Homo sapiens: one gene and its partner. The protein of the gene in region 2 interacts with the protein of the main gene of each other region in a pairwise test. Each region holds a gene or a part of one and is shown on either strand. Other genes may lie near its edges.

What was found. The genes of interacting proteins can lie anywhere in the genome.
Region 1: the proteins of NCALD (region 2) and FGF6 interact in binary tests that used the Homo sapiens proteins (3 or more experiments, as listed by UniProt).

The regions. Positions count from the first base shown.
Region 1 is NC_000012.12:4,442,794-4,450,556, forward strand, and holds the start of FGF6 (fibroblast growth factor 6 precursor), read right to left. Parts: upstream 3,023-7,763; 5' UTR 2,778-3,022; coding exon 2,432-2,777; intron 1,444-2,431; coding exon 1,340-1,443; intron 1-1,339. UniProt on the Homo sapiens protein: Plays an important role in the regulation of cell proliferation, cell differentiation, angiogenesis and myogenesis, and is required for normal muscle regeneration.
Region 2 is NC_000008.11:101,686,015-101,689,973, reverse strand, and holds the end of NCALD (neurocalcin-delta), read left to right. Parts: intron 1-567; coding exon 568-665; 3' UTR 666-3,432; downstream 3,433-3,959. UniProt on the Homo sapiens protein: May be involved in the calcium-dependent regulation of rhodopsin phosphorylation. Binds three calcium ions.

The sequences.
Region 1 (7,763 bases), on a different chromosome or scaffold from region 2:
TCGCCCTCCAGCTTTCAGGTTCAGTGTAACATGGGGAGTGGGTGGTCCCCTGCCCTCCAGAGGCCATGTAGCCTGCTGACCCCCAAGCCTGCCTGTTCCTCAGAAACACCTGGCAAATTTAAAATACAAAAACAAATGGATTTCCAGGCCCACACGCCAGCTCTGCTGAATAAGAATCTCCTAGGTAGGTACCTGGAAATCCATACTTTTAATAAGTTTCCAAGGTGACAGAGATGCAAACTGTCCACAGACCCGTGTGGGAGACCCACTGATTGTAGTGCATGCCGTATGTCCACATAAACCAACCCAGACTGAGAGATGTTAGCACTAAAGATTATGGGGTGGAGGCCACCTGGTGAACCCGTTCTTGTATTTCATAGACCTCCTCTGTTGGGACAGCTCCCCTGGGACCCAGTGCCAGTCCTGGATCTATTTCTTCACATCCCAGTCCTCAGTTTATCCTCCAAGGGGCAGTAGATCAGCTCTCCACACCCTCCCCATAAATAACTTTGATATTTTTTGAGGCCTGCTCTGAGGTCTTCCTTTTTAGCTTGCTTATTTCTGTCAAAGGAACTCTCCATTTCTTCAGCCTCATCGGGATGTTTGCCCCGCCATATTTTGGAATAAGCCAAATGATGGGCCGAGGGCTGCAGGAAAGAGTAGGTCAGTGAGAGCAGAGGTTTTCGTCAATGTGCTTAGAAGCTGGTTGCATTAACCCAAGTGCCAGCATTGGCACTCCCAGAGGTGACCTATGGGGGTGGGGATGGGAATGGGTGGGACTGGTACCAGCCTAAAGTGTATAACGGGTAGGCTGCTTCTCTAGCGTACGTGATCGGAGACCAGAGGATTGAAAACCCTAGTGCAGAATCTCAGCACACTGATGAGGATGAAAATAGCCTCCCATTCCACTCCTCCTGCTGCGCACGAGGCTGGGGCATCTTGCAGGGCGCGTGTCATGGAGCAGCGCACCCAGGCAGAGAGACAGACTTGCTCTCGGGGCCTCGCCAGTGCAGGGAATCACACCTGCTCACAAGCCTGGATGCCAGAATGTGGGTTTCCCTCTGGCCCACGGGCTCCCTGAGCTGTGGTTTCCGTTTAAGCACACGGGCTCCGGCCGGCAGGTGGGAACAGAAGAAGCACGGGCCAGGGCAGAGGACAATCACCCGTGAGGCTGAAGAAGCACAAGCTGCAAGGCCCCTCCCTTTCACAGGCTCCTCTCACAGCCTTTCCTTTCCCATTTAGATAGTCACTTCTCTACTCAGGACTTCATATTATTTTCTTCAACTGTGTAAGCATCAAGCCTTGTAAACCTGGCACTTCCCCGGCCTGGTGAACTCACCGTTGCGTACAATCTTCCTTTACTGTTCATGGCAACGAAGAGGGCACTTCTCACTCCAAAGAGACTCACCACGCCTCGCTCCACAGTGGAAATTTCCAGCAGGCCTGACAAGGAAAGGGGGGCCACATTACCTAAGGCTTGTGCAAATCAGAGTGGGAACTTGAGCCGACAAGGGCATCTCAGTCCATCCCCCTTCTCCTAGAAAGCCAGACTCTCCATTGCCCCATCCATGATCCCTCTAACTCTAGGAGACCCTGGCTGCTGGACTCATCGAGTGCTGCCATTGTGCTGTTAGAAATCCAGTTCTGCAAGGGAAGGTTCTGATAGCAGAGTTAGGGGCTGCAGTGACCACTTAGCTATCTGTTTAAGATGAGCTTTGAATCTGGGCTTTCAGTGACATAATTACTTGAGGTCCTTGACTTGAGTAAAAAAATAAATTCTGATTCTTCTTCTTCTTCTTAATGTGTACTCTACATGTTTCAACAAATCTCAACCCACTTAATCTTGAAAACACAGCAGCCACACCATAGCTGATGGCTTTCTTGGATCCTGCAGCCCCCATCCTTTCTTGGATAGGAGACTAACCATACAGCAAGCTGGCAGCTTGCAGGCAGCTTGCAGGATAAGAACCTGGGGACAGAGGGAGCCGCTGAAATAAAAAGAAGGATGTGCTTCAGTTGGACATTTTGCAATTGAATTTCCCTTCCTTCTCCAAGAAAGAAGCTGAATAAAAATGAGCTTGTGTCAAATTTGATCCAAGTATACTAACTGATTCTCCCTACCCAGGCCTTGGGGGCTTCCCAGACTAATGGTTCCTAATGGTCTTACAAGGCATCAGATGGGCCAGTAATGCTGAAATAGTTAGTGCCACTGAGGATCTAACCAAGGCGATGGCAAAGAACACCAGGATGCTTGGACCGCAGTATATTGAGCTTGCACCCAGGCAGGGTCACGTGGAATCATCTAAGTGGTGAGCAGCATTTCTGCCCCCTTTATCGTGCATCCTGTCCGCTAGAGCAGGGCCCCTTCACCTTTTAGCCCTGCATGAGCCCAAACCCCCAAGCGTCCCGACTGGCTGCAGCTGGCACTCACTGTAGGGGTTCTCCTCGTGGGTCCCGCTGATCCGGCCGTCGGGGAGCACCTGGAGGTGAAAGCCGATGCCCACGTTGCAGTAGAGCCTCCGCTGCCGCTTGATCCCCACCAAATAGCCACTTTCCCAGTTCACCCCGGCAATCTCTCCAGCTAGCCCGGCGCGAGACCTGGACAGCAGGGTGCCCCAGCCCCTCGAGTCCAGCAGCGTGTTGTTGGCACGGGTGCCTGCAGGCGAGGGCACCACCATGCCCACTAGGATGCCTAGGAAGACGAGAGCCCACAGCGTGCCCTGCAGACGTCCTGCTCCCCGGGACATAGTGATGAACAGTTTCTGTCCCAGGGCCATCCACCTTGCCTCTCAGGCACGTGGTCAGAATTAATGGCCCTAAAAATACCGCCCTTCTTGTTTTTCTCCCTCCGGCATGGCGGCAGGGGCTTATTTTTGGAAGGCAGATGAAGGCTGCTGACATGAAACCAAAGCCTCCATCGGGCACTCGGGTTGAGAGCAGAGGGACCCAGGCTGAGCCGCGGCCGGTAGAGACCATGGCTCGGGGACGCTCTCTAGCTCGCCCGCTTGCTCCGTCCCTAGTTGATGATATTTGATTTGACCTATCTTTATAGTTGCTTCAGCAGCCCGGCCCTCCCCTCCACCCATCATCGCCCTGACGTCAACCCGCCCAGCTCACTTATCCAGGGCTGTAACATTAACCTGCTCTTGGGCCTGGCTGCCTCCCCAGACCCCCATCACCCTCCACACTCCCCAGGGGTTCTGGGAGCCACTGTCATTCCAACTATGAGGCAGGAATGAAGTGAGCAGGGAGCATCTCTGGGGGAGGGGGGAGCTGGCTGGGGGCCCAGGGAAAGAGAGAGGCGAGAGGCCACCCAGGACCCATATTGGGCAGAAGTTCTTTGCCTGGCAGCGCTGGCTTCCTTATTTAGAGGGCAATAGGTAGAGGCAGGGATGGGAAAAGGCTTGTGGTAGTGATGACCGTAGCCTCAAGTCACCCTTGAGATCTTTTCATGGAAACAGCTCATGGTGGAGGGGAACACTGAAAGGCCAAACCCTTTCAGCAGGAGGGCACAGACATTCTCAGGGGGTGGGGATGGGGGTTGTTCAAGGAGCTTTAAGATTGTGGAGGGAAGGAGGGCAAGGGCAAGGTTTGCCTGCTCACTGTCCTGGTCCCGACATTCACCTGGGGTGGAAGTTGTGTCTGGCCTTTGACACAGCCCCCTGGCCATTCTCCCTGGATTTATCCCTGGCATGTGACTGATATTATTCCCATTTCACAGATGAGGAAGTTGAGGCTTAGAGAGGATAAATGACCTGCCCGAGTTACCATAGCTAATAAGTAGCAAAGCCAGAACTTCTAAGGTGTGCCTGAGTCTAAAGCCTGTGCATGTCTAATGCTTGCAGTAGAAGTTGGCTGGCCCATAGAGTCTGTTTAGCTCCTTAAATGCCAATAGCACATCACAGAGTTATTTCAGTAGCATAAAATGATTTATTTCTTAAAAAAAACTTGAGTGTCTTTGATGTACATGAGAACTTCTATATTTGCAGATAACTTTTGCTGGGCTGATATTACACTCAGAAACTAGTAAAAATATTTCTGCCAGGAAGTTATTCCTACACTGATTTATCTTATTCCCATATTACTTTTAAATAGATTACATGTCTAACTGAAGTGAGAAAAAAAATGTAAAGCTACCAGAAAACTCACTGCACAAATTTCTATACAATATAAGACAGAACTATTAATACGTCTCTGAGGGTGAATAAGTTAACAAGGGTCGCTGGGGAATTGAATTAACTTGAGTTAAAAATCCTGTTTCTTGTACTTCAATCCAGGCCTTAATCTGTTGGTGAGACATTAGCACTGATTTTGCCGGGATTGGAGAGAGTATGTGTGGGGTGATGACAGTGGCATACAGATGGATTTGAGTGTCCTGAGCAGTAGAGCTGGTCCCAGCAGGCAGCTCCCTTAGCCACACTCTACACCCACATTGCAGGCTGCAGGCAGCCTGGAAAAGCTCCTGGGGTGAGTTCCATGGCCCAAGGACTCTACTGAGGCACCACCGCCTTCCCTCTGATTCTAAACCTTCTGCTGTGCCCTGGGTCCCAGCCTCTGGTCTGTGGCTTCTACCTGCCTTCTCTCTGCCCTTCTGCCTCGTTCACTGGGTTCGATGCTTTGGTTCAAATTTCTGTCAAGCCATGTGTTTAGTGTTGCCCTAGACATGCCTTCTGAAATCCTGTGAAGCCCAGATGTCTGTCTTTACCCTCAGCTGGTAAACTGAATGGGGAGGGACATAGGCACCACTTGTTCCTACTGTCACCACGGCCCCCTGACTTCCCCATTGGCTTCCTCTCCCTTCCACTGCCGTTGTCCCATACCCAATCTCATCATCACCAGCACTGCCATTTCCCATGAGGAAAGATGATGCCTTATAGGCTCAGATTGAGTCTACTATGTAGGCCTTTGTTGGAAAACTGTTTTTAAAAATCCTTCTGCAAAGTAAAAGGTTCATGAATAATCCGAAGACAAAGTTGTCAACAAAAAGAACTTCACTTTGGATTTCCAGCTGGGTTTCATATAGTTAAGCTTTCATGGATGCAAGAGCAGTGGGGACACTTTCTCAGTGATGTTGTTTGGAATCTTGTGTTAATTATGCTGGTGGTCCTCACTTAGGGAAGAGACAGTCCAGAAACATGTTGGATGGTAAGGAGAAGTCAGTCTGAAGTTAACACTTGCCTTGGATAATCGGAGAGGTGCTCACCAGCAGAGCTCAGAATCTCTGTGGAATTTCTTGGAACCCATCCACTTTGGGACTGCCTTAGGAGAGAGATTAAACTATAACAAGGTCCATGTCATATACCAATAAAAATGGTAACGCTCCTTAGATTCATCTCTTCCTGGATTCCTCTCTGTGCAGAGGTTCTGGTTGATGTCTCATAAAGCAATGGGCTTTGGAATGGGGACACCTGGATTTGAATCTCAACTCCACCATTTAGTAGCTGTGTGACCTTAGGAAAGTTCTGGACCTCTCTGAGCTTATTTTGTCATCTGCAAAATGATATCATTACTTCCTAAGGTTGTTACAGTGACTAGCAATAATACATACAACTGGCCAGTGCAGAGCGCAGTATAGCTATTTCCCAGAAATTTCCCTGAAACACATTGAAAATCTCTCACCCAATTAAAGAGGACAAACCCAAAGTGAGAAAGACCATCTCTCATCTCACGGTGTGGGAGAGACACGTGGGCTTCCAGTTCTTCATTGCCATCCGCCACAGCATATGTTGTGATGGCTGCTAACATATGCAGAAGCAGGCAGCCCAGATTCCTCAAATGTTCTGAAAACCAGTGAGAGCCTTGGTGTCGTCCCCTGTTAAATTTAAAACTTAAGTAATTCATGCTATTAAAAAGCCTGGGTCTTATTTTTATCGGGTGATGCGATGAGGCCCTGTTCTGAATGTACCTCCCCTGCCTGTCTCTATAGCAACTTTACTGTGCTCATATAGCCATATATTTTTCCTGAAGGCTAATTAGGTTGACAACTGCTAGGTCTTCTTGGCTTACCAGATTTGCACTTGACCCTTCTCTTGGGGCTTAGGGACCCCTATGGATGTGAAGTGATAGAGAAAAGAGTAACAGGTGGAAGAGGCCTCTCTCCATGGACCCCTCTTGCAAATAGTTGGCCAACAGCCTTTGGGGATTGTCAATCACTCTCGCTGGATGAGCCAAGATCCAGTGGAGGTGAGTGGGAAAATACGTTAATGTCTATCTCCTCCCACAACAGGGTCCTTGTCCCCAAGGGGGATACCACAAAATACAGATTTGTCAGATTTGGCAATGCTTAGCCACACCAACCTTCCGCATCATCTGCATGGCAGAACTCCCTCCGTCACATCAGGTGGTTGCTCTCTGTGACTGCTGTGTGTTACATAATCAGGATCAAATGCCTGATGGGTGACCAAAAGGGAAAGCACATAAAACTCAGATGAGCCTCATCCACGTAGATTGTGAAAAGCTGTGCTTACTTGTACTTTTTACATTTGGTTTTGAAAAACTAGCATTTGCCTTTTTCTATAGATAATTTGGAAAATGTGGAAAATGATAAGGTGGAAAACAAAATAGCTGTTTGTGCTTAGTGTCTTTGTCTCTTTTGTCTCAAAGTCTGTCTTTGTGTGAGCTTGGCACAGCGGCCTTGAAGCCTCCCTGTATCTCCTCCCCATCTTGCTCAGACAGGCAGCTCTGCACCTATCCCTGGTTTTTTTAGTGGTAGAGATTGCTCACAGGATTTAATCGGCATGAGATGGACATGTGTAGAGATGAGGATCGAGGAAGGATTCCTGCCCTAGGCCTGAGCAAAGAGGGACATTTGCAGCTCATAAACTTGCTACATGAGGGAGAATTCAAGAGAAACAGTTTCAACTGATCAACAGTGTCCAGGTTGGACTTCCGCAAAGACAAGGCAGCCATTATCTTGCTAGCTATTCCCTGGGGAAACCTAAACTTTGTACTTTCCTAGTAGAACTCAACTTTTCCCAGGCCTCACCCACTTACACAGTGGGAGCCATTAACAGTTATAATCCACATTTCCCTAGTTCTTGCTTCTTCCAACTCATGTGGAACTTCACCCCACTACAAACCACCCCCAAGATATTTCTGCAGTTTCAGAGCATGTCTCACATATGTTCACGAGCATGTGACTGCTTCTGCCTGGGCACATTGCCAGGCACCTGCGTGGATCTCCCTGTTCTCCAGCCTTTCCACCTCCTGCTGGGCAGCCCGGGGGTGTTCCCTTTCTCACTATAGCTCAGCACCTGAAGCCCTCAAGGAGCCAGAACTGCTTTATGTTCTGTTTCAAAGCCAGGAAGAATACCTTAGTCCCCGTCTTCATGTTATACCTATTAAGGAAATACCTGGCCAGTACTACTCATGCCCTGGCAATCTGCTGATTTGAAGTTCTTTTCAGACTCCTTGCCCTGCAAAGGACTCAGTCTTGTTATGGGTTAAGCTGATCAGGTGGGATTCCCATTTCCTTCCATGTGGATTATTTTTCTGGAGGCCCCTCAACCCCTCAGACAAATACACTTCTGCTGGGGCCGGCCTATCTGCATTGTCTATATGTGTCTGAATCCTGGCTTGAGTTCAGACTGGAGACCCTGCCCCACTCCCAGAGACCCCTACAATGGGGAGGGAAGGAGCCCCTGAACACGCAGCTTTGTGGTCTGGTTGGTCACCAAGTATTTGCAGAGTTTTCTGGGAGAAAGATTCTCCTCTCCACACTAGCAGTCATCTTCTTGCGTTAAAGTGCTTCTTGATCTATCCCT
Region 2 (3,959 bases):
AGCTGTCTTCCCGTGGTGTATGAACAAACACTTACGTCCACGGCTTCTTCCCCAAGATAGGATGGGCTCTTGCAGCAAACCTAAGAACACAGAGTGGCCTGAAGAACACGAAGTGGCTCAGAAGGCTCCAGGGAACATTATGGGAACCAACCGGGTGCTGCCAGGGCCCAGCTCATTCTCATAAATGCAGGAGGGCCACTTGCTTTACAAATGCTGAGTGAGCCTCTCCAGGGCGCCTGGAGCCAGGAGGTCAGGGACCAAGTCAGCATCATCCACCACCCTCTCCCCAGTCCCGGGCCCAGGGCCGGGCACACAGTGGGCTCTCAGGCAGCGGCGTTTGATTGCCACATGTACTGTCCTAAGTGCTGGCAATGCCATGGTGAATGAGGCAGCAGTGTTCCTGGAGATTCCACTGGGCTCTTCCCCGGGACAGGTGAGTGCTGTGTGTCACAGTGGCAGTGAGGCTGCAGGCAGGTGAATCGACACTGCCCAGCACGCAGTAGTGGGAAGGGTGTAAGCTCATGCAGCTGCCACCAGCCACCACTCACCTGTCCTCTTGCTTCCTAGGAAAACTCTCCCTGGAAGAGTTCATCCGAGGAGCCAAAAGCGACCCGTCCATTGTGCGCCTCCTGCAGTGCGACCCGAGCAGTGCCGGCCAGTTCTGAGCCCTGCGCCCACCAATCGAATTGTAGAGCTGCTTGTGTTCCCTTTTGATTCTTCTTTTTAACAATTTTTTTTTTTTTTTGCCAAACAATATCAATGGTGATGCCGTCCCCTGTGCGGTCTGATGCGCCTTCCTCCGTGACGCCTTCAGCTTCTTTTGTCGTGGATGCTTCGTGGGAATGCCCAGAGCCCCAGTGTGCTTGTGGAGAGCATGGACAGACTTCGTGGTGTTCATTGTTTGATGATTTTTAATCGTTACTATTATTTTTTTTTATTCTAATGTCTCTGTTCTAAAACGTAAGACTCGGGGGTTGGGGCAAAAGAAGGGAAACCCATCCAGTCCTGTGATTCTATTGCAAGCTTCAAGGGGCTTTTGTTTGAAAGACAAAACTCCCCACCTGAATCTGTTGTCACACGTGCCGTAGGGGTGATGGATGGCACCGGATGCTGGATTCCCCAAGAACAAGTTACCCTCTGGGGTGAGGCTATTCCAGCGAGCTGGGACATTTCCCCATGGGGGCCCACTCCCCTCTCTTCCCCAGCAGGCTGTAGTTTCTAAGCTGTGAACATTTCAAGATAAATTAACAGAGGAGAGGAAAAAGATGGCTCAGCTATTTTTTCACAGGTTTACACTAGTTGAGCTAATATGCGTGTCTTTGGAAATTAAACACAAATGGTAACATATTCCAAAACCAGACCCATCTTGTTGCCTATTGTGATAAAATAAAAAGACGGCTGTATATAACATATTGGGTAATGCAGACCAAATTAAGTGTTTTGCCTTGTTTAAATGAAATGCATGTTTAGTGAGCACTAATACAATCTTATTCCAGAAGACTGTTTTTAGTAGCTTATTGTGAAGTAAGACAACTATAATGAATGTCTGTCTTGTTTGGAAGTCATATCTGTCTTTGCACAAATGTACCAATCGACAAGTATATTTTATATATTCCATAAAAATACAAAGTAACCCTGACTAGGGCCCAACTTTAATTTTGAATGCATTTCCAGAGTGGCCATGCCTAGAGGGCAGATGCAGAGCAGGTGGTAGTGGGACAGGACAATTGGAGCACAGGAATGTTAACATGTATGACAGGGGACCAGTAGGGTGGTTTCCCTCTCAGGCCCAGCAGCCCATTGACAGCATTAGACTGGCGGCATGGTGCTTTTCTGAGCAGATCAATACTCTGCAGACTCGAAAAAACATCACATACATTCTTGGAACTTCCCAGTGGTTTAATCTATGTGCATGGTTAGGGAGCCAGGTCTGGAATATTCAGTTTCCCTGCCCCTGTTAAAGAATCAGAGGTTGGGCAGTCATCAAATTCATCATAAAGACATGGGCAAGTGTGTCTGTGGTTTCCAAGGCCCCCCTATGGAGAATCCAAAAGTATTTTCCATTGCCGTGCTCTTTGAATGCAGACTTCTATTTCCAGAAGTGACAGCACAAGTCTGAGTTGCTGTTTGGTCTGGTGACCTCAGACACACTAATTTGAATTGAAAGCTAAGAGTAAAAATTTGCTGGTTACAGGCGAGTCATACTCTTGCAAGTAGTTAGCAAAGGGAGGCCCAAATTCTCAAGGTTGTTGATGGGGAACTTGCCACTAAGAGAAGGCAGAGAGGTCCCTAGTGGGTATATTTGCTGCCAAGCCACTTGCCAAAGAAGAGGAACCACAGAAAGAGAGACATCATGACCAGGAGAAAAATGTGACTAGACATGCTAACCTCCAGGTTTTTATATATGACTTGAGTCTGCTGTAATTGGCAGCAGAAATCCAAATTTGTATGGTAGACCAAAAAGAACCAAATCCATAGGGTGAAATTTTGAGACCTAGACTCTGTAAAAATAATCCTAGTCTTCCTCCAGGGGTCAGTTCCTCACAGTGGTTCTGTACCAAAACTTGCCAAATTCCTCCATGGCCAAGTGTTAAAATCTGTGTTTGGAAAATAGCGAATTAACCTAAGACACAGAAGGCAGACTGGGTGAGGAGACCTAGCATGCCCTATTGGCAGTGCTCAGGAGCTGCATCCCACTTTTCCCTGCTCTGAATCGAAGTCCTAGTTCCTTCCTTTGATTCTCCTTTGGTAGGTGGAATCAGTTAATGTTTTGAGAAACCTGCCTGGGCTCTGCCCTTAGTCATGACATCTCGCTGAGCCAGACCCACTCTGTTCCTTGGAACCTAGAGCTGGAGTGAGGAGTAGAGGTCTCCGGCTATTCCAGAAAGAAAAGTGAGCCACATGCAGGCTGATGAATGCCGACACTTCCAGAATGTATAGAAATAGTCCCTGTCCTGGCCTGCCACTGACCCTGTCTGTATTTTCTCGGAGGTTGTTTTTCTCCTTCTCCTTCCCAGGAAGGTCTTTGTATGTCGAATCCAGTGCACTCAAGTTTGGCCAAGGGACTCCACAGCACCCAGAAGACTGCATGCCTCAAGGTTTATGTCACTCCTCTGCTGGGCTGTTCATTGTCATTGCTGTGTTCAGGGACCTTTGGAAATAAAACCTGTTCTGTCCCAAATAAAACCAGCCTGTGATGTTCAAGGGACTGGAATAAAGTGGCTTACGACCTGAAGGATTCTACAGAGTGCTCAACTGTTCATACATCATTCAGAGTGGGAGGGAGCTGGGGGTGCTGTCCCATCCCATCTGTATGCCCACGGTGGATTTAATAATATATAATTTATAAATCATAGCCTATGGAGTGGCCCGTAAATCAGTTGACTGTGTAGCTCTTGCCTGGCATTAAAGCATGTTTTTGGTTTAACATGATTTTCATGAGATTTTCATGCCTAAACTGCTGCCCCAGCTGAATCTGTGCCTTACTGAGGCTCTAGCTTCTGATACTAGCCTCCTCCTGGGTATTTTTCCTGCCTAGAGTGACACAAGGAACCAAGGTTTGTGAGGGGGGATGAGAGAGGCTGCTGACCCCAAAGTTCTGTCCAAAGGCATCCTTGGTCTTCATATGGGCTTCCTTACATCCCTCCCTCCATGGTCTACACTTCCTTCCCATATCCTCTCCTTCCTCAAACTAGAGTCCAAATGTTAGGTACAATAAAGGGAGAAACTGAGGCAACCTCCCCTTCAATGGGATCTGGGTAAGCTTCAGGAAATAAATAACCTCTTCACCCCTCTCAGCCTGAGAAGGTTCAGTGAAAAAGATGACATGAGGCAGAGCCTACACTCTGAAAGCCAGTTCCAATCATGGTGTTGGCTGTTGCTGTCATTGGCCTTGCCTCCAGCACAGGAGGCCGTTACTGTAGAGAAAAGGAGCTGCCATCTTGCTAACTTGAGTGTTA